Homo sapiens: one gene and its partners. The protein of the gene in region 1 interacts with the protein of each later gene in a pairwise test. Each region holds a gene or a part of one and is shown in the gene's direction. Other genes may lie near its edges.

Evidence for each region.
Region 2: the proteins of PLLP (region 1) and PGRMC2 interact in binary tests that used the Homo sapiens proteins (3 or more experiments, as listed by UniProt).
Region 3: the proteins of PLLP (region 1) and VMA21 interact in binary tests that used the Homo sapiens proteins (3 or more experiments, as listed by UniProt).

The regions. Positions count from the first base shown.
Region 1 is NC_000016.10:57,281,673-57,289,583, reverse strand, and holds the start of PLLP (plasmolipin), read left to right. Parts: upstream 1-4,911; 5' UTR 4,912-5,043; coding exon 5,044-5,178; intron 5,179-7,911. UniProt on the Homo sapiens protein: Main component of the myelin sheath that plays an important role in myelin membrane biogenesis and myelination. Plays an essential function in apical endocytosis. Regulates epithelial development through the regulation of apical endocytosis.
Region 2 is NC_000004.12:128,277,805-128,284,828, reverse strand, and holds part of PGRMC2 (membrane-associated progesterone receptor component 2), read left to right. Parts: intron 1-7,024. UniProt on the Homo sapiens protein: Required for the maintenance of uterine histoarchitecture and normal female reproductive lifespan. May serve as a universal non-classical progesterone receptor in the uterus.
Region 3 is NC_000023.11:151,392,893-151,400,214, forward strand, and holds the start of VMA21 (vacuolar ATPase assembly integral membrane protein VMA21), read left to right. Parts: upstream 1-4,313; 5' UTR 4,314-4,416; coding exon 4,417-4,469; intron 4,470-7,322. UniProt on the Homo sapiens protein: Required for the assembly of the V0 complex of the vacuolar ATPase (V-ATPase) in the endoplasmic reticulum.

The DNA.
Region 1 (7,911 bases):
GGCTCAGGTGCATTGAGGGGAGGGGGTTGAACATCCCGTTGAGTAAAGGGTTAAGTCAGCATCAACCAGTGATATTTTTAAAGTGTTCATCAGAGCTTGTCTCTCGCCTGCTTAAAACACTCCAGGCCTTGGCCGGGCGCAGTGGCTCACGTCTGTAATCCCAGCACTTTGGGAGGCCAAAGCAGGCAGATCACGCGGTCAGGAGATCGAGACCATCCTGGCTAACACGGTGAAACTCTATCTCTACTAAAAATACAAAAAATTACCCAGGCGTGGTGGCGGGTGCCGGTAGTCCCAGCTACTCTTTGAGGCTGAGGCAGGAGAATGGCGTGAACCCGGGAGGCAGAGCTTGCAGTGAGCTGAGATCACGCCACTGCACTCCAGCCTGGGCGACAAAGCGAGACTCCGTCTCAAAAAAAAAAAACACTCCAAGCCTTAAAATAAAATGTTAGCCCTTCTCCATCATTGTGGTAGGCTGTATAATTGCCACTAAAAGATGTATCAGTGGCTCATGCACTTTGGGAGGTCAAGGCAGGAGGATTGCTTGAGCTCAAGTTCGAGACCAGCCTGGGCATCATGGTGAAACCCAGTCTTTACAAAAAATTGGTGAGTCATGGTGGCTCAAGGACCTGTGGTCCCAGCTACTCAGGAGGCTGAGGCAGGAGGATTGCTTGAAACCTGGAGGCGGAGGTTGTAGTGAGCCAGGATGGCACCACTGCACTCCAGCCTGGGCAACAGAGTGAGACCCTGTCTCAAACAAACAAACAGAACAGATCCTAATTCTTGGAACCTGTCCATTTTACCTTATAAAGTAAAAAGGTCTTTACAGATTAAGTGACTAAATTAAGATTCTTTTTCTTTTTTTTTCCTTTTGAAACAGGGTCTTGCTCTGTCACCCAGGCTGGAGTGCAGAGGCAAAAACATGGTTCACTGTAACCTCAACCTCCTGGGGCTTAAGCAATCCTCCCACCTCAGCCTCCTAAGTAGCTGGAACCACAGGTGTGCACCGCCACGCCCGGCCAATTTTTTTTTTTTTTTTAGAGACAGGGGTATTTGCTGTGTTGCCCAGGCTGGTCTCAAACTCCTGAGCCAAACCCATCCTCCTGCCTTGGCCTCCCAAAGTGCTAGGTTTACAGGCATGAGCCACTGCGCCCAGCCTCAAATTAAGATTCTTTATTTGAGGAAAACTATTCTGGAGTATCTGGGTGGCCCTAACACAATCACAAGTGTCCTTATAAGAGAGGCAGAGAGAGATGTTATACATACAGAAAAGGAGGAGGCCATGTGACGTAGGAGGCAGAGACAGGGTTGATGCAGTCATAAGTTGAGGAATGCCAGCAGGCCCCACCAGGGTTGGAAGAACAAGGATGGGATTCTCCTCTAGACTCTGCAAAGGGAGCATGACCCTCAGGACACCTGATTTTGGCTCTTCCCAAATTTTGGAAGATTTTGGCTCAGTGAAACTGATTTCAGACTTCTGGCCTCCAGGACTACAGGAGAGTAAATTTCTGGGTTTTCTTTTCTTTTTTTTTTTTTGAGACCGTGTTTCACTCTTGTTGCCCAAGCTAGAGTGCAATGGCTCAATCTCAGCTAACTGCAACCTCCGCCTCCCGGGTTCAAGTGATTCTCCTGCCTCAGCCTCCTGAGTAGCTGGGATTACAGGCGTGTACTACCACGCCCAGCTATTTTTTTGTATTTTTAGTAGAAACAGGGTTTCGCCATGTTGGCCAGGCTGATCTGGAACTCCTGACCTCAGGTGATCCACCTGCCAAAGTGCTGGGATTACAGCCGTGAGCCACCGTGCCTGGCCAAATTTCTGTTGTTTTAAGTCACCAAGTTAGAGCAGCCACAGGGCACTAATACAGTCCTCTAAATAGCCTGTGTGATCCGGCCCTGGCCCGTGTTGCCAATCTCACCCTTACTCACTTGGCTCTAGCCCTACCAAGGACCTTTTTCTGTTCTCAAAACTGGTCCAGCCTCAGGGCTCCTGCACTTATTAAATTCTTCCCCCAGAATTCCCAAGGCTAGCCCCTACTCATGATTTGGGTCTCTGCATAAATGTCACCTCTTCCCACAGGTCTTCCTTGACCACCTTAACCCAGAAATCACCTGTGGGTGACTCTGTGTCACATTCCCCCATTTTACTTTAGTCACAGCGTTTGTCACTATCTGAAAGTATTATTCCTCCCGGGTTTATTACTTCTCATCCCCACCAGACAGTGGGATCCAACGACTGAAATCCTATCATTTGTGGCAACACAGATGAACCTGGAGGACATCATGTGAGTGAAATAAGCCAGGCATAGAAAGACAAACACCACGTGGTCTCTCTCATATGTGGAATGAAATAAAGAAGTTGATCTCGGCCAGGTGCAGTGGCTCACGCCTGTAATCCCAGCACTTTGGGAGGCCAAGACAGGTGGATCACCTGATTTCAGGAGTTTGATACCAGCCTGGCCAACATGGTGAAACCTTGTCTCTACTAAAATTACAAAAAATTAGCTTAGCGTGCTGGCGGGCGCCTGTAATCCGAGCTACTCAGGCAAGAGAATTGCTTGAACCTGGGAGGCGGAGGTTGCAGTGAGCCGAGGTCGCGCCATTGCACTCCAGACTGGGCAACAAGAGCAAAACGCCATCTCAAATAAATAAATAAATAAATTGATCTCATAGTAGAGTAGAATAGTGGTTACAGGAGGCTGGGGTGTAGTGGGAGGATACAAAGAGGTTGGTTAACAGGTACAAAGTTACAGTTAGGGCTGGGCATGGTGGCTCACACCTGTAATTCCAGCACTTTGAAAGGCCAAGGCGGGTGGATCGCTTGAGGCCAGGAGTGCGAAACCAGTCTGGGCAACATGGAGAGACCCCATCTCTACAAAAAAATTTAAAAAAATTAGTCAGGGCTGGGCCCAGTGGCTGATGCCTGTAATCCCAGCCCTTTGGGAGGCCAAGGTGGGCGGATCACAAGACCAGCCTGGCCAACATGGTGAAACCCAGTCTCTATTACAGATACAAAAAATTAGCTGGGCATGGTGGCTCGAGCCTGTAATTCCAGCAAGACTCCATCTCAAAAAAAAAAAAAAATTAGTTGGGCATGGTGGCGTGCACCTGTAGTCCTAGCTACTAGGGAGGCTGAGGTGAGAAGATCACTTGAGCCTAGGGGTTGGAGGCTGCAGTAGGCTATGATCATGCCACTGCCCTCCAGCCTGGGTGACAGAGTGGGACCTCGCCTCAAAATAAATAAAAGTAAAAAGAAAAAAATACCAATATTGTACATTTCTTTTCTTTTTTTGTTTTTGTTTTTAGATGGAGTCTGGCTCTGTCACCCAGGCTGGAGTGCAGTGGCATGATTTCAGCTCACTGCAACCTCTGCCTCCCTGGGTTCGAGTGATTCTCCTGTCTCAGCCTCCTGTGTAGCTGGGACTACAGGCACCCACCATCATGCCTGGCTAATTTTTTTGTATTTTTGTAGAGACAGGGTTTTGCCATGTTGACCAGGCTGGTCTCAAACTCATGACCTCTGGTGATCTGCCTGCCTTGGCCTCCCAAAGTGCTGGGATTATAGGCGTGAGCCACAGCGCCTGGCCCTAATATTGTATATTTCAAAATATGGTAGCTAGAAGTGGGGATTTTGAATGTTCTCACCCCAAAGAAGCCATAAATGTATGAGGTGATGGATATGCTAAGTACCTTGATTTGATTTTTTTACACAACGTACACAGGTACCAAAACATCACATGGTACCCCATATTTAGGTACAATTATAGGTTGCCGAAAAAGTAATTGCGGTTTTTGCTATACTTTTATATGCAAAAACCGTATAACTTTTGCACCAACCTAATATTACATGTCAGTTAAAAACAATTTTTTAAGTGGCTCTCTTTTTAAGTGGGTATTTGGGAAAAAAAAAATGTGGGAGCCAAGAAGGCCTTGTCTACTTCGTTTCCTGCTGTATCCACAGGGCCTGGCATGTAGTAGGTGTTCAGCAAACATTGGTTGATGAATGCATGATGACCTATCTGTGCAAACCTCTAGGCTCAAGAGGTGTGTGTGTGTGTGTAAGTATTTTAGGGTGCATGTGTGGCAATGAAACTGTATATGACCTCCCATCTTCTGAGTGACCCCTCCTCCCTCACGCTGTCAGGAGCTTTCTGGGGAATATTTCATTTATTCCCTACAACGCTCTGTGAGGCAGGTTTCCTTCGTATCTATATGACAGACGAGGAAACTGAGGCTCCGCGATCATCTAAGTTATATAAAATATGTTCAGAAGTGAAAACAGCATTAATAGGCAGAAAAGGACCTCCCCCTTCTACCGCTTACCCACCGCTTACCCAGACCCTCCCCTTCCCCGCGCTGGGTCTCCCAGGATTCTTCTTTACTTTCTTTTCTATAAAATACAGACGGGGGGAGGGGGGGCGTCTCACTGTGTTACCCAGGCTGGTCTCGAACTCTTGGCCTGAAATTATCCTTTCACCTTAGCCTCCCAAAGTGCTGCGATCAGAGGCAGGAGCCACCGCATCCAGCCTTCTCCCGGGACTCTTCAAGAGTCGCTGCGCCGGGGCCTAGGCCGAGGGTGCACAGCGCGTAGAAAGCGCCTGGGAGAGCGGTGTCCCCCGCGAGCTACCACAAGTTTATCCCTAGGCGCGGAAGCTACCACGGCCTGGGCGAGAGCCGGGAAATTCCCAGCGGGCGGCTTGCCCCGGGGGAGGCCGGCGAAGCGGTCTAGGCTGGTGCTGGCGGAGCCGATTCACGGACCCGGGGTTGTTTACTGGTCCGGGGAGTGGACGCGGCTGCCCACGAACCGGTCGCGGCTGGGGCGGCGGCGGCGAGCAAAGGGTTAAGGGGGCGGCCCCGGCGGCGGGGGCGGAGCCGGGATCTCGGCCGCACCTGGCGCCCCAGGCTCCCAGCCCCGACGCCTCCTGCAGCGCCTGGAGCCACACAGGGATCCGGAGCCTGGGGGAAAAGCGGCGCGGGAGCCGGCACCCACCGCTGGAGGGGCGGCGACGGCGGCCGTAGCGACCTCGGGAGGCAAGCGGAGCCGCCATGGCCGAGTTCCCGTCGAAAGTTAGCACGCGGACCAGCAGTCCTGCGCAGGGCGCCGAAGCCTCGGTGTCGGCGCTGCGCCCGGACCTGGGCTTCGTGCGCTCCCGCCTCGGGGCGCTCATGCTGCTGCAGCTGGTGAGAGCACGCGCGGGCCCACGGGGTTGGCCGGGGGCTCCCGGTCCGGCCAGGATGGGTGAGGGACTCCGGCGCTGCGTTCATTTTTCGCGAACCTTGCGCTCCCCACCCGGGCTCACACTGTCACCGACGCGCTGCGCGTACCCCTAGGGCGCTTCCCGCACGGACGCCCCCAAGATCGCCCTGCATCCCTCTCACCACGACACTACCCCGTGGCCGTCGCTGCGAGCGTGAGCACCCTGCACCGTGTACAGAGTGCCCACTGCCCGTGCCCCATCGTGCCCCCTCCAAGGTGGTTACCAGCGGCCACAGAAGCCCCCACCGGAGCCACAGTCACTGCGCACAACCCGCCAACCCTTCCCAGCCCTCCCTTCCCTCCTCTCTCTTTTTCACCCCTCTTTCTGCCCGGACAGTGCCCCCAGCCCTCTAGGGAACCCAGTCTGAGGCAAAGTCCACTCTCTGACCACCTTCTGTCCCGCTCCCAGCGGCTCCGGGTGGCCGCACCCATGAACATTCCTCATCTAATCTAGAGGGCACATCCGACTCCCCAACACGCACACTCAGGCACTACCCTGTGGGCGCCCGCGCGGGAGCCGGGCTCTTCTAGCTTTCTCTGGGTGACCCGCCAGGTTTCAGCCGGTTTAGCCAGCCCCACGGGACCGAGATATCGCTGGAGGGAGGGGTTTGTGGGTAGCCAGGGGCAAGACTCCTACTCTCTCCCAGACCCCTGTACAGACCCCAACTGAGGCGGACCCATGGGAACATCCTCCACTCCCACACCAGCCACAGGCCCGGATGTTAGCTTCTTCCTCTGCCACCCTTTCGTGAGGGTCTGGAAGCTGGGTGGGTGCCCTGGGTGGGTGAGGGCCTGATACATTTTCAGAGGACTCAGGTGGAATTGGAGTTGGGCCAGGACCTGTATTTCTTAGCAATCCAGCGAGTGGACATTTCCCATTGTCTCCTATTGCTGGGTGCTAGCGCTGCTGCGAGGCCCAAGCTAGAGGGCAGGGTGGTTGCTTTGGTGCCAGACCCTGGGCTGAGGTCCAGTCTCCCTTCCCTGACCTCTCCAGGTGCGGGCCCACCTCTACCTGGGTCAGTGCTATCTCATTTCAGGATTTCTCAGATCTCTGTGGGCCCCCTCCCCAACCTCTGAATCTCCTGGCGGGTTTGTTTAAAATTTAGATTATTGGACTCCACCCCCGGAAAAAAATGTGCAATCGGAATTTGAATCTCAGGAAGTACAGCCAGAAATTCATTTTTAACAGTTCTCCCAGAGTTTTTTGTTTGTTTCTCTTTTGGGGGGTGGGGGAGAAGGGGAGAAGATTCTGTCTTCTGAGGGAAGAGGTCTAGTTCCTGGAATCATTTAATTCTGCAGATGGGGAGAGCCACTGACCCCGCCACCGCTAGAATGCTCTGCTCTGGGCTGGTTGTGAGGGGCACAGCCATGAGCAGCTGCCTGGCTGCCCAGGGGAGAGCCAGGTGGGTGTGAGAAGTGGTGCGAAAGGGCAGAGGAGAAGGAGAGCAATTTCACGACCAGGAAGGCTTGTTGGAGGAGGTGGTTTTTGAGCAGAGACTTCACTGAAATCTGAGGCAGACGCAGGGAAAGGGTGTTCCAAGGGCAGGGAACAGTGTGAGCCAAGATGTGGTGATGAGAAAGTTGAATTAATTTGCAGGGAGTAGCCAACAGGTTGGTGGTGCTGGAGTTGAAGCACTTGTTTCTGGTGTGGACAGAAGCCAAGGGCCTTGTGTAACTTCTGCGAGCTACAGGGTCTAGGTTCTGTTGGTGGCCTTAAGAGGTTTTGGAACAGAAGAGGGATCTTGCTGGGTGGAGGATGATGACTGGCAAGATCCCTGTGAGGGATCCCTCAGCATCCCTGGTGAGGTGGATCCTGAGGCTGGCCCCTGATGGACAGGAGGATTGCTTGTGGCCAGAAGTTCAAGACCAGCCTGGGCAACATATTGAGACCCTGTCTCTACAAAAAAAAGGAAAAAAAAAATAGCCAGGCATGGTGGTATGCGCCTGTGGTCTCAGCTACTTGGGAGGCTGAGGTAGGAGGACCCCTTGTGCCTGGGAGTTTGAGGCTACAGTGACTTTGATCGCACCACTGCACTCCAGCCTGGGTGACAGAATGAGACTTTGTCTCAAACAGACAAACACACACACAAAAAAAAAAAAAGAAAAGAAAAAAGAAAGAGACTAGCAATAGGGGCAATAGGGGGAATGGAAGGCATTGGAGTAAGAGGAGGATGTTGCTGCTGTGGGCCGCAAGGGTCTTGGTAGCTTCCTCTAGGGCAGGCTTGTGTTCCTGATTGGGGTTGGGATGGGTGGGGGCATCCCCTGTGGCCTCAGCAATCCAGCCCTGCGCATCTGGGTCCCATTACACAGACGTAGACATTGAGGTCTAGTTAGAAGGACTTGCCAGGAGTCCTGTAATAGAGCTTGGCACTTGGGTCTCTTGACTCTCAGGGACTGGGTGTGAGGGAAGTGGGCTCCTTTTGCTCCCTACCTGCAGTGCCTTTGAGGGGATGAGGGTCTTCCATCAGAGTTCTGAAAATGACCTGCACATTTTAGTGCCTTAGAAATCTGCTTGTTGGGGCCAGGTGTGGTGGCTCACGCCTGTAATCCCAGCACTTTGGGAGGCCGAGGTGGGCAGATCACGAGGTCAGGAGACGGAGACCATCCCGGCTAACAGGGTGAAACCCCATCTCTACTAAAAATACAACAAAATTAGC
Region 2 (7,024 bases), on another chromosome or scaffold:
CCAAATTTCTGGCTATAAAACAGATACAAGTTCAGTTTTGCTTTTAATTTTTATTTTCATCCTCATAAATTAAGCAGTTTTGTAGCAGAATAATTCAGAAGCAGTAATTGTTAGTTTCTATGCCTAGCCAATATCTACCCTAATTTCACAATAATGGTTTTAGGATTAAATTTTGTGAGATTTTTCCATAATGCTAAACATGTGTTTATTTTTAGTCATACATTTTTAAAGTTCAGGCTCTTAATTAAATATTGACAGTGTAATTTGGTGGAGTATACACATTTTGGCAAACAGTTGGCATTAACTGTATTTGCCAATATTAAATTTAGTAACAGATCAGGCACTTGGCCAGCAGGTGAGGAAAGTTTGGTCATGTAAAAAACTGAATACAGGAGGAGAAAGAAAACCAGATTCGTTAAGCACCCACAATATCAGATCCATTAATTTTTTTATCTCCATAATTCCTCAGTGAAGTTGGTAAGTATTCCTGCTCTACAGGTGGGGAGTCTGAGGTCTAGGTATTTTAGGTAAATTGGCTTGGATTACATGTATGTCTAATAAATCCAGATGGATATTACCACACAGCTTATCTATACTATTTCTAGTAAACTGCATCCTGTGATAAACTTGTAGAGAATCTTACTGTTGTTTTTCTTTATACTCTTCCCTGGTTCCCATAAATCCAAGGATTTAAAGCCTCAAAAAAAACATGCCTTTCGGCCAGGCACGGTGGCTCACGCGTGTAATCCCAGCACTTTGGGAGGCTGAGGCAAGCGGATCACTTGAGGTCAGGAGTTTGAGACCAGACTGTCCAACATGGTGAAACCCCATCTCTACTAAAAAAAAAAAAATAAAAATAAAAAAATAAAGGCCAGGCACGGTGGCTCATGCCTTAATCCCAGCACTTTGAGAGACCAAGGCGGGCAGATCACCTGAGGTCAGGAGTTCGGGACCAGCCTGGCCAACATGGCCAAACCCTGTTTCTACAAAAATACAAAAAAAAATTAGCTGAGCTTGATGGTGGGTGCCTGTAATCCCAGCTACTGGGGAGGCTGAGGCAAGAGAATCACTTGAACCTAGGAGGTGGAGGTTGCAGTGAGCTGAGATCTCGCCATTGCACTCCAGCCTGGATGACAGAACGAGACTCTGTCTCAAAAAAAAAAAAAAAATGCTTTTATGGCTTTATGTTATACTGCCCAAAATGGTGGCCCCAGGTGGCTAATTAAAAGTAAATTAATTAAAATTAGATATAATTAAAAATTGAGTTCCTTAGTAACACTAGCCACATATAAAGTGCTGAGCCCACCATGGCTACCATTTTGGACAGTGCACTTTGTATATTTTCATATTGTGAGACTGGCGTGCCACCTACTGCACTAACAAGGCACCTCTTAGAGTATTTCTGTCTTCCCAGAGAGTTGTTGAAAACAACACTGATTCTAAAGGTCAGAGGAGGAGAAGGAGGAAACTCCATTTATTGAGCTTAGTATCGCTAATTTTCAAACAGCCCTATGAGATTGCCCAAAGCCACATATCTAGTAGGTGGCAACACTAAAAATTAAATCCAGATTTTCATAGCTTCAATCCTTCCCATTGTATTACAACATAGTCTATTCAGTTTCACATGTTTACAGAATCATAAGTTTTGAAGACTCAAACAGCTAGTATAATTTTTAACAATTTTATTTAATATTACTGCAATGGAACTTTACCAAAACAGTGCTTTTATTTTTTTGGAATGGCAAAAAATTATACACTTGACTTTTTGATAGTTTATTTTGCGTTGTTGAACCTTGCAATACTGCTGCTCCCTTATTCCAGGTGGAGTATTCTTTGACATATACCAAAGCTATATTTTTTCCAACTTACCTTTTAAATTCCACTGAAAGAAAAAAGTCACGTAAGAAGAACCCCATGAGATGCCTAATATTTAGGAGGTTGGGGAAAAGAACACATGTACCTTGAAGTGTTTTTCCTCCATTTTAAACTTTATCTTCAATTTGTTCACTTTTATTTAACACTTTAGTTTGCAGAATTGGAAACTCTGTGTTTGCAGAGTTGCATCATAAAAACTGGACCCAATCTTACCTATTTCTTCATGGATGTCCTAAAGTTGCCACTGCCCACCTCTCATCCCAGCTTCTTGCTTTGAAGCCAACTGGCTTTGTTGTTTGGGCTAATGCCCATATGCATCTATTACCTACCAGTAAGATAAAAGGATTAGCTAGGTTTTCTGATGATTTTTTATATTCTGCTCAAATTTCTACTAGTTATTTCTATTATAACTACTTAGTTGGCTCTGAATTCAACATCATCCCGTTGTTTTTAATCTTTGAGGGAATCGTATTTGTGTTAAATCCTAAAGCATATTATAAAAGGATAGCTTGAAACCAGAAGCTGTTATTCAGGGTGGAAGAAAGGAGTAGATTTAATAACATCTGGAATTAGCCATTCAAGTTCTTTTAATTGTTTTTTCAACACTCTGACATAGACCACTCCTTTCCCTGTGCACCCAAGACAGACATGACTGTATAACTCCTGTATTCTTTTGGAGCCTATATCCAGTCTCAGGATCTTTAATAATAGGATTTCAGCTCCATTTTTAAATACTGAGGAAGACTTCCCTGGATTTCATTACAGTAAAAGCTTAAGAGATGAGAAATGGAGTTAACTGAGTCTTCAAAACAGATGTGTTCCTATCCTCATGGAGTTAATAGTCTATTAAGGAAGAGAGGCAGTAAACAAGGATTTCAGTATGTAATTATAATCTGTAATATGCTATAAAAGAAATTAATAGAATGGGAATAGAGGGTAACAAAGGACTTTATTTAGATTAAGTGGCTAAGCAAGGTTACCTTTTTTATGTTAGATTCTCGAGAAAAAGGGCTCGACATTTAAGCAAAAACCTAACAGAGCCAGCCATACAAAGATTGGGTATGAGAATGTTCTGAAGTGAGATTGTTACTATGCTTTCTATACCGAGCAAAGCCATCTAGCAGTAGATCTAGAACTGATCATACTAGAAACCTCTTTAACACTGTTGATTTTCAGATTTTACTTCAGCCTTTATCTGATTAGTATTAACACAATATTTCATTTTCCATCCCTTTTAGTCAATCTGTGTTGTTTTATTTTTCTCACATTAATGACATATAGCTGGATTTTTTCATTTAATATTAGCACTATGTCCTTTAATAGCTTAATTAGTGTATATGTTTTGTGATTACGGGTATATTTAGGTTTATTTCTATCATCTTATTTTGTGATTTCTCTTCACCTTACTTTTCTTTGCCTCTTTTCCCACTATTTTTCCTTCTCTGATTGATTTTTTTATTTCTTCCATTTTCTCTCCTCTACTGATTTGGATGTATTCTATTTCTATCCTTTTAGTGATTTCCTTAAGTTTTTGCTATAGATGACTATCCTATGCTTCTGAACAATATAAGAATTTTAGCCAAACATCATTTTAGTGTCAATTTGAAAAAGCTGCCTCTTTAAGATACTTTACTGACATTTGACAGATTATTTCTTAATAAATAAGCAAAACTGCCATGACTACAAATATGGATAGTATCCCCTGCGTTGTACATAGTCATATGTTGAGGCCCTGGTTAGAAAGCTTTAACTCTGATTCCTCCCCCATCCTGTTTTCCACAGTATCACTATTAGACTTTAGCTTCACTTTGTTTTTTCAAACTCCACCCCAAAATTGATGAAATTATTATCTTTTTAATATAGTCCTTGTTTAAATTTACTAACATGGTTATCATTTTTTTAATTCACTGTTGTTTCTTGCATCTCATTTCTTTGGGGTTCACTTTTTATTTTAGTGAGGTGTGTCCTATAGTTTTTCACTGGCAGGAAAAAATTTTTTATTTTTCCTCACTCAGGAATAATAGTTTGGGTTTAGAATATAAAATTGTAGATTGGGCCAGGCGCAGTGGCTCATGCCTATAATCCTACCATTTTTGGGAGACCAAGGTGGGAGGACTGCTTGAGCCCAGCAGTTCAAGACTAGCCTGGGCAATATGGCGAGACTCTGTCTCTTACAAAAATATAAAAAATTAGCTAGGCATAGTGACATGCACCTGTGGCCCCAGCTACTCAAGAGTCTGAGGTATTAAGATCGCTTGAGCCCAGAAGATCAATGAGCCTTGATAACACCACTGCACTCAACCTGGGTGACAGAGCAAGACCCTGTCTCAAAAAAAAATGTAAATTGACCTTATTATACCTCAACTCTTGAGTAGCGTTATGCCACTGTCTTCCACTTGTTGGTGAGGAGTCGGCTTGTAGTTTCTCTTTACTTTTATTAATCTTTTTCTTCCTTTTGGTTGTAGTTGAGATCTTTTTGTCTTTGGGGTTTTGCTATTTTACTAGGATTTGTCCAGGTATGGATTTGATTTTATTTACCATGTACCAAACTCTACTCAAGTCTGTGGATATATTGTCCTTTTTTTTTTTTTTTTTTTTTTCCCAGAAAATTTGCTGTTACTTATTGCCTCTTCCATTATCTCTGTTCCTTCCTCTGGAACTGTTAATAGATATACATTAGGTTTTCATTCTATTCTTAATGTCTCTTAATCTTTCCTTTTGTACCATTTCTTAATAATTTTAAGCAAATTTACTTTAGTTCTTTAATCTGCTTCTGTATCTGTTATATGTGCCCACTCCTCCATGATGGTTTGTTTCTTCATGTAGTTTATATTTTTTATTGTGAACTTATTATCTTCAGTAGTTACTTTTTTTAATTTTGGAGTATTTCCTGTAAAATTCCATGAGCCCTAAGTTGTGAAAGAGGTAAAGTGCTTTGGGTATGTTGCAAAATAGGGCCTCACGTAAGTTAAAACAATGATTTTTTAAATTAAGTAATACATGCTCAAAATAGAAAATTCAAAAGGATATACAGTGAAAAATAAGTCTACTTCCCACAACTAGTCCCAGCCACCATGTTCCCTTCCATAGCAGCAAAGCACCAGTCTACGTATTGTTCTAGAGCTATTTTGGGTGCAAGTACAAGCATGTGGATATCTTCCTTTCCCCCCACACTAATTATAGTATACTATGCATACCCTTCACAATATTTTAATATCACAAGAGCCTTTGACATCAGTATAGAGAGCCATCTTATTCTTTTGAATACATGCATAATATTCTATTTTATGAATAAGTCATAATTTAACAGTCCACTGTTAACATTTGTTTTCAGTCTCCTGTTATTGCATGATGCTGCAATAAATATGTACATGTCATTTTACACATGTGTGTAAAATTATGATTATAAAGTAAATTCCTGGAAATAAAATTACCGAGGCTTGGGGTATGGATATTTTTAATTTGGATTCTTGTTTCTAAACTGCCCTTCAGAGAGGTTGGACCAATTTACACTTGATGAAAATGCCTGTTTCTCACTTCTTGCCAAAAACGTGGTATTAAGCTTCTTGGTCTTTGTCACTCTTGAGAGGTTAAAATGGTATCTCAATATTTGTTTAAATTTACATTTCTCATTTACTTAATGAGGTTGGACTTCTTTTTAAAAAGTTGAGTCATTTATGATGCCTTTTCTACAAATTGTTTATTCATATATCCTTTGCCACAGTTTTTCTCTTTTTTTTTTTTTGAGACAGAGTTTCACTCTTGTTGCCCAGGCTGGAGTGCAATGATGCAATCTCGGCTCACTGCAACCTCTGCCTGCTGGGTTCAAGCGATTCTCCTGCCTCAGCCTCCCGAGTAGCTGGGATTGCAGGCATGCGCCACGACACCCAGCTAATTTTGTATTTTTAGTAGAGACGGGGTTTCTCCATGTTGGTCAGTCTGGTCTCGAACTCCTGACCTCGGGCAATCCGCCCACCTCAGCCTCCCAAAGTGCTGAGATTACAGGCATGAGCCACTGCGCCCAGCCCTGCTGCAGTTTTTCAATCATCATATTGATCGTACAGATTTTAGGTGTTCTTTATAAAGTAAATCAGCCTTTGCCGCAAATATTTTTTCTAGTTTGTCCTTTTACTTATTTATGGTGTTTTTTTGAACCACACAAAGTTTTGGTTTTATGTATTCAAATTTATCTTTTCTTTTATAGCTGCTAAGTTATGTATTATATTTAAAGACTTTATGCACTTAAAATTGTTTTTAAAAATCTGTAGTTTTTTTAGTACTTCTGTGGTCTCAGTTTTTTAGTTCCATTTGAAATTGATTTTGCTTTAAGATGTGAAATTAGAGTCCAAATTTGGTGGGGTGGTGGGTGTTTGTTTGTTTTTGAGAAGGAATCTTGCTCTGTCACCCAGGCTAGAGTGCAGTGGCGCCATCTCGGCTCACTGCAACCTGCGTATCCCGGGTTCAAGCGATTCTCCTGCCTCAGCCTCTTGAGTAACCGGGATTACAGGCGCCCACCACCGTGCCCGGCTAATTTTTATATTTTTAGTATAAGAGACAGGGTTTCACCATCTTGGCCAGGTTGGTCTCAAACTCCTGACCTCGTGATCTACCCGCCTTGGCCTCCCAAGGGGTTGTGTTTTTTAACAGAAGGTTATCTAGTTGTCCCAACATGTTTCCCCAACAGGGGAATAATCCCTTTTTCCTAATACTTGAAGTATTATCTTTAGTGTTCATTAATTCTTATAGATATTTGAGTTCATACTATTTTTTCACCTTGGAATTTTCATTCTGCATGGGTTGCATAAACTCAGGCCCCACTCCCATAAGTGGCACGGGCCTGGGCTTTTAATTTTTCTGTCTTTTCTTTACCCCAGCCTACCCATGCACCCTGGAGTTAAGGCCATATGCTCAGTTCACAATGTTGCTGAGCGCTTTTGACAGTAGCTCAAATTTCAGAAGCAAGATTGCACTTTCAGTCACTTATAGAATCATACTATTCAAGAGATTATTTAGTTTGGTCTCAACTTCAGGCAGGTAAAATAATTTTCCTAATTTATATTTGAGGGATCTAAGGACTATGGAAATCGAGACTTGTTGATTGTGAGTGGATCCTCTAGAACCCAAGTATCTGTCTTCTTGAGAGGTATTA
Region 3 (7,322 bases), on another chromosome or scaffold:
TTTTTTTTCTATAAATGGAACTATGCTTTTTCACCAGGGGGCATATTTTACCAATTTTTTTTTTTAAGACATCACAGCCTACATTACAAAGAAGCCAGAGTTTCTCTCTCTCTTTTTTAATATGAGTTTTGTTGATTGTACAGTGGAGCTTATTTCTATTTTCCTTATGTCTTAGTTTTAAAAACACCGTGCTGTTCAGGTATAGGCCTTGGCAAGTATCAGTTGGTGTTTCAATATGGTTGTTCCATCCAATCCCACAGCCAGCCACCCAAAAGGAAACTTCAAGAAACGAAGTTTTTTCGGGTAAGTAAAGCAATTTGGGGTTGCAAAACGTGTCTTTGGGTGTATACTTTTCACGTCACTGGGTTAATAGTACAGAAGTTTATAACAATATGGTGGAGAAAACGTGTCTTACAAGTAGTACAGAAGTTTACAACAATATGGTGGAGAAAACATGAGACAGAATTAGGAACTATACATTCTCTAATTCTATCACTGACCTAGGGAATTTGGGGCAAATCACTTCCCATCTTTAGCTGTCAGTTTTCTCAACTAAAATTAAAGTGCCAAACTGGGGCTCTTTCAGTTTGAGAATCAGTTTCTGACTTTAAGGGGCATTGGGAAGCCTTCACCAGACTCTGAAATTTTCCCTGGCCTCAGTTTTTCCACTTATGAAGTGGGGATGGTATAAATTGTAGGGACTGTGAATATGCTCAGTAAAATGAAGCACAAGACACATGCTTTAGGGCAGCAGTGGTAGGAAACCACTATTATGGTTTCCTCTGTAGTGGCCACACCCCCTAACACACCATTTCATTCCCATGGCAACGGCTCTGTGTGGGCTCCACTTGCCTCTAATTCTTTTGTAGCACTGCAGGTAGGAGGTTTCAGGGCTCTGTTGAGAGGGCTGACTGCTGGCTAGATTCTTTCCTTCTAGTACAGATTCTGAGTTTATTTTTAAAGTTCTGTGTCTACCTCAGTAAGCTCACAGTAAATGTTGGTAGAGTGTATAAGTCAGCATAAAAAAGAGATATGGCAGGGCGTGGTGGCTCACGCCTGTAATCCCAGCACTTTGGGAGGCCGAGGCGGGCGGATCACGAGGTCAGGAGATCGAGACCATCCTGGCTAACACGGTGAAACCCCCGTCTCTATTAAAAAAAATACAAAAAATTAGCCGGGCGTGGTGGCAGGCGCCTGTAGTCCCAGCTACTCGGGAGGCTGAGGCAGGAGAATGGCGTGAACCCGGGAGGCAGAGCTTGCAGTGAGCGGAGATCGCGCCACTGCATTCCAGCCTGGGCGAAAGAGCGAGACTCTGTCTCGAAATAAATAAATAAATAAATAAATAAATAAATAAATAAATAAATAAGAGATATGAGAGCTTTTGTTTATATTTAAAAACACTACTATGTAAATTACATGAGAAGTTTTTCCCACAGCAAATCTCATTTATGAATGGTTCCTGTTTAAGTTATCACACAAGTGCAACTTAGGCTGTTAATGTGGGAGTGTAAAAGTGCCAGCCTGGGAGTCAGGAGTCAAGCTACATCCCACTAGATAAATGTGTGACTTCCCACAAGTCCCGTCCCCTCTCTGGGCCGCAGTTTTCTCATCTGTACAAGGAAGTGTTTAGACTACTGTTATGGGTTGAATTGCTGGCCCGGTCACCCACACCATCCCCAAATTCATATGCTGAAATCCTAGCCCCCAGTACCCCAGAGTGAAACAGCGTCGCTGCAGATGTAAATAATTAAGTTCATACAGGTGTAGGGTGGGCCCCTAATGCATTATGACTGGTGTCCTTATAAAAAGGGAAAATTTGGACAGAAACACAGACGCAGGGAGAAGGCCGTTTGAAGAAAAATGCAGAGATCAGGGTGATGCTTCTACAAGCCAAGAAATGCCAAAGATTGTCAGCAAACCACCAGAAAACAGAAGAGGGGCCTGGAACAGTCCTTCCTTCACAACCTTCAGAAGGAACCAGCCTCGCCAACATCTCCATCTCAGACTTCTAACCTCCTGAACTGGGAGATGATTAACTTCTGTTGTTGGAGCCACTTAGTTTGTGGCATTTGTTATGGCAGCTCCGGCAAACTACAACAACAGTGGTTCCCAGTTTTTTTGGGGGGGGGTGGACAGAGTCTTACTCTGTCACCCAGGCTGGAGTGCAGTGCAGTGGCACGATCTTGGCTCACTGCAACCTCCGCCTCCTGAGTTCAAGCGATTTTCTGCCTCAGCCTCCTGAGTAGCTGGGATTACAGGCATGTGCCACCACGCCAAGCTGGTTCCCAATTTTTTCACCATCAAGAACTATTTTGCTCTTTTTCCTTTTGTGGACCCAATTTATTTATTTAACAAATATTTATTAGTTCCTACTATATACCAGGCCCTACTCTAGGTATTGGGGAACAATAAGTCACAATTCCGTTCCCCCACTTGTGTTCATTCTATGTTTTAAAAGATTTATTCTATTAAGTATACTGTGGCTTATTTTCATAATAATCTGTGAACAGTCTTTTCTTATGGGATAACTAGGATAACCTCATCATGATATAGTAAGTGTCAAAAATCAAAGAACGGTGATATTTTAAGTAGCTTTGGATGCCTAACAGTAAATAGATTCATTAGGTTTTTAAAAATATTAAAAACTGCCTTCAGAACCACCATTACTACATTTATGGGTCCCTAGGGATTGAAGGACCTCACTGCAGGCTGATTAGCTAGAGCAGGGGTCAGCAAACTCTTCTGTAAAAGGGTCAGATGGTAAGAATTTTGGGCATTGCAGATCATTTTGGGCGTTGCAGATCATACCGTCTCTGTCACAACTACTCAACATTGCTGTTGTAGATAATACAAACAAATGAGAATGGCTGAGCTCCAATAAAATTTTATCAATAGACGCTGAAATTTGAATTTCATATAAATTTCACGTGTCATGTTATTCTTTTGACGTTTTCAACAATTTAAAAAGGAAAAACCATTCTTACCTCAGGGCTGTAGAAAAACAGGTGGTAGGCTCCATGTATTAGGTCGGCTGGCTCAGTTTGCCTACCCCAGAGCTAGATTCTCTTTGTACCCCAAGTTCTTACATTAGGTGGTTCTTACTCACCTAAAGGTCTAGATGAGGCCCAGATAGAGATTACTATTATTTTTATTAAATATTTTACAGTTTGTTTTTTAGAGACGGAGTCTTGCTATGCTGCCCAAGCTGCTCTGGAACTACTGGCCTCACGCAATCCTCCTGCCTCAGCTTCCCAAAGTGTTGAGATTACAGGCGTGAGCCAGCACAGTCAGCCCTAGAGGGGGATTATTCAGTTTGAACTAAAACCTGGACTTCCTGCTGCCCAGTCCATTGCCCTTTCCACCACTCTAAGCTGCTGGTTTAGTCATGATTTCAGATGTGGTCTTTGTATCCATGTGGTGCAGAAAATAGCTGTGTGGTCAGCGGCCCTTTCCAGGCGCTGACCATGTTAAGGGCTGTCCTCTTATTAGCAGCCAGTGGCAACTTAATTTTGTCAAGCCTGACTCCAGACTTACCCACCCTTTCGTTTTTACCTCTCTCGGGTTGCGCAGGCCCGGGAGGCCCATCTGTTCTTACTATTTGAGTCCCTGTTGTCTCATTGGCGGCTTTCTGAGCAGCTGCAAAATATGTTTTTAACTTTTAAGTGGAAGTTGGGGGTCACTGGCATCGAGTCTGGAACAGTCATTCTCAGCAAGAGCTCTTTGAACTCTGACATTCTCTAGTTTTACGGACTCGGGTGAGTGTTTTAACTCCTCCCAGCTGCCAAGGGCTTGACTTCCTACCACTGCGGGCAGTAATTAATGAGGCATTTATTTGCTCAAGTAGTGGCGAAATAATGCGCACTGCTTTTTTGTGTTGTCGTCGGCGGAATACGCTCAGTTGCCTAGCACCACAGCCCTCTGGCTGGTAGTCCCTCTTCGCGGCTCATATGCTCGGGTCTCCTTGCGGCCCCCAGCTCAGCGACCGAGACGCAGACGAGGACCAGTGTTCACGCGAGTTCAGGGGGCGGCGTAGCCGCCGCCCGCCCAGGAGGACCATGTTGCGCGGCAAGTCCCGGCTCAACGTGGAGTGGCTGGGCTACTCGCCAGGCCTGCTCCTCGAGCACAGGCCCCTCCTGGCAGGGCGCACGCCGCGGAGCCACCGCCGGTAAGTCATGTGAGCGCCCGCCCCCGCGCCGGCAACAGCCCTGCGTCGCTGCGGCGCGCCGCGCCGCGCCGCGCCTGCGTACTGTGGCCCGCCGCCCGGCGCGAACGGGCACTTCCGGCGCGAACGGGCACTTCCGGCGCGAACCGCTACTTCCGGTGCGAACCGCCTCGGCCGTTCCCTCGCGGAGCTTACTGAGCGCGGCCGCCGAGCCCAGCTCCGCCGCCGAGCGCCTGTGCCGGCACGGCTACACCATGGAGCGCCCGGATAAGGCGGCGCTGAACGCACTGCAGCCTCCTGAGTTCAGGTAGCCCTGAGCGGGGCCTGGACCGCGAGGCGGACTGGCCCCAGCCTGGAGCAGGGCTTGAGGGAAGGCCCTAGCTGAATGGGTGGGCGTGAGGTCTGGACCCCGGGGACCTGGCCTCAGGGAAGGGGGCGGGGAAAGCAGGTTGGAGCCTGAGACGTCTAAACTCCCGGCCCCGAACTTTCGCTCGGGAACAAGGGATCCGGGGTCATGGGGAATAGGTCAGTGGGCCTTCAGCTCATGCTCCTATCCTAGCACTTTCTCTCGCTGTGTCTATATTGCAGTCTCTTTCATTACCGCAGGGTCAGCCTTCTGAGGACAGGAATGCAGTCTCCTTCATCTCCGTGTTCCCTAGGGGGCCTGCATAGTCGGGGCTTAATAAATGTTTGCTGTATGAATGAAGGAGTAGAAGGGAATAGTCCCCTGGTGTGAGATTGCTTCACTTGGGGAATCAGTAAGATAGAGGCTGGTGACTGAGTTGAAGGAATGTATGAGAGAGCAGGTGGTTCTGGCCCACCCCAGTAGGCAAGGGAGTGGTGAGGGAGTTAGCTATCATTCGTTAAGACCTACTGTATGCCAGGCTCAGTGCACGTGCTTTACATACATTGTCAGAATTCTTAATTTCTCTAACTGCTTGATTTCCCAATTTTGAAGAGGATGCAGTTGAGGGTAAGTGACTTGAAACTGAGGGTGAGTGATTACAGAATTAGGCGACAAAGTTAGTATGTAATTGAAGCTAACGTTTGACCAAGCTCACTGACTCCAAAGCCCACGATCTTTGGAGCTCTGTGATGCCTTCTCTTTCCGACAGGGTCATTGTGAGTTTTTTTTTTTTTTTTTTAACTTTTATTTTAGGTTCATGAGTACATGCGCAGGTTTGTTATATAGGTAAACTGCATGTCACGGGGGCTTGGCGTACAGGTAATTTTGTCACCCAGGTAATAAGCATAGTACCCGATAGGCGTTTTTTCTGATTCTCTCCCTCCTCCCAGCCTCCACCCTCAAGTAGACCGCACTGTCTGTTGTTCCTCTCCTAGTGTCCATCTGTTCTTGTTGTTTAGTTCCCACTTATGAGAACGTGCAGTATTTGGTTTTCTTTTCCTGTCTTAATTTGCTTAGAATAATGGCTTCCAGCTCCAGTCATGTTGCTGCAAAGGACATGATCTCATTCTTTTTTATGGCTGCATAGTGTTCCATGGTGTATATGTACCGCATTTTCTTTATCCAGCCTCAATGTGGGTTTTTTTTTAATTATTCATTTATGAGAATACCAACATATTTTTATTAGATACACTTACAGCATAGTCCTTCTAGACTGATTCTGGTTTCCTAATGGAATTTGCAGTGAAATCTTGACTGTGGGAGAAAGAATTCCTGTTGTCTTACTTGCTACAAAAGGGAATGTGGTAGGCTCTGTCTGCTCAATGTTGGCTGCAGAAGTTTGTATGAAGTGGGAAAACTAGGTGGTGTTATAAATGGAGGCAGATTAAGGTTCATCCTGAACTTTTTCCTTTGTGTGAGGACAACTTTAATTCCAGCCTTTCTCATTCCTCACTTCTAACAAATCTCTGCTCAGTAACACCCAAAGATACATAGGATAAATCAATTGAATAGCATCAGTTGCTTTGTCTTGGATAAGCCACTGATTTTACCCAAGGTGGCTTGCATCAGCAAAACCAACAGCTCTTGTGGCTGGAATCCAGGGAGAAAATGTCCTATAAACAGTAGAGGAAGTTTGCTAGTTTTCAAAAGTTTGTATGTACACTTTGACTTAATGCTTAGTCCCATATTAGTGAGGTCACAACACAGAAAAGTAGTCACATTTTTGAAGTTTGAGGTAAAGAGAGAAGTGAGAAGGAATTAGCCATAAATTATTAAGGTATGCTGTGTATAGATTGTGTGGGGGCTAGAAATTAATATGTAGAAAGGTTATATTTGGGTGGTGGGATTATAGGTGATTTTGTTTACTTTAAAACATTTTTATGGTGTTATATCATCTTTTCAATAATAAACTTTTTAAAAGCCAGACCAGATAATAGATACTCAAGAGAGGTCATGTAAAGAACAAAACAATCAGTTAACACTTCCTTTCTGTTCCTTTAACAAGTTAGATAATCTGAAAGTTGCATTCCTAAAACATACTTTTTTACTCACCATAGAAACACCAAAGTCAAGTGCTTTTTTTAGGGTGCACAAAAGAATTGGCCAATTAGTGACTCTTTGTATTTTTTGTAGATTCTCCACTGCAGACACTCATACTCTTCATGAGGATTACACAATAAATTTCTCTAAAAATTTACTAGTAGGAAACAGTTTAAGGGAGCTTATGTATATTAAATGAGAGTTGTATAGCTCAGTAATAACCAAAATGAGGCCTGCTAAAAGATGATCCATTTAAGTACCAAAAGAAAATATTAGAACTTTTTTTTTTACAGCAGTAAGCATTTAATTTCTCACACATGTGCAGAGCATGTGATCAAGAAATAGGCATGAGGTTAGTTATATTTAATATATATTTTACTCAATGTTTTTGTGGGTTTTTTGTTCAGGTTCTTTTTAAATAAATTTCATTGTGTATATTTGAGGTTCATAACATGATGTTATGGCATACATATAGTAAAATGATTACTATGGTGAAGCAGATTAATATATCTGTCATCTCACATACTTTTGTGTGTGTGTGACCAGAGGCAGCTAAAATCTTATTTACAAAAGTCCCTAATACCATGCAACTTTATTGCCTATAGTCCTCTTGTACATTAGATATCTCACTTGTTAATCCATATATCTACTGCTTTGTGTCCTTTGATGTATATCTTCCTATTTCCTCCCCTCCAGCCTCCCACCCCCACCGCC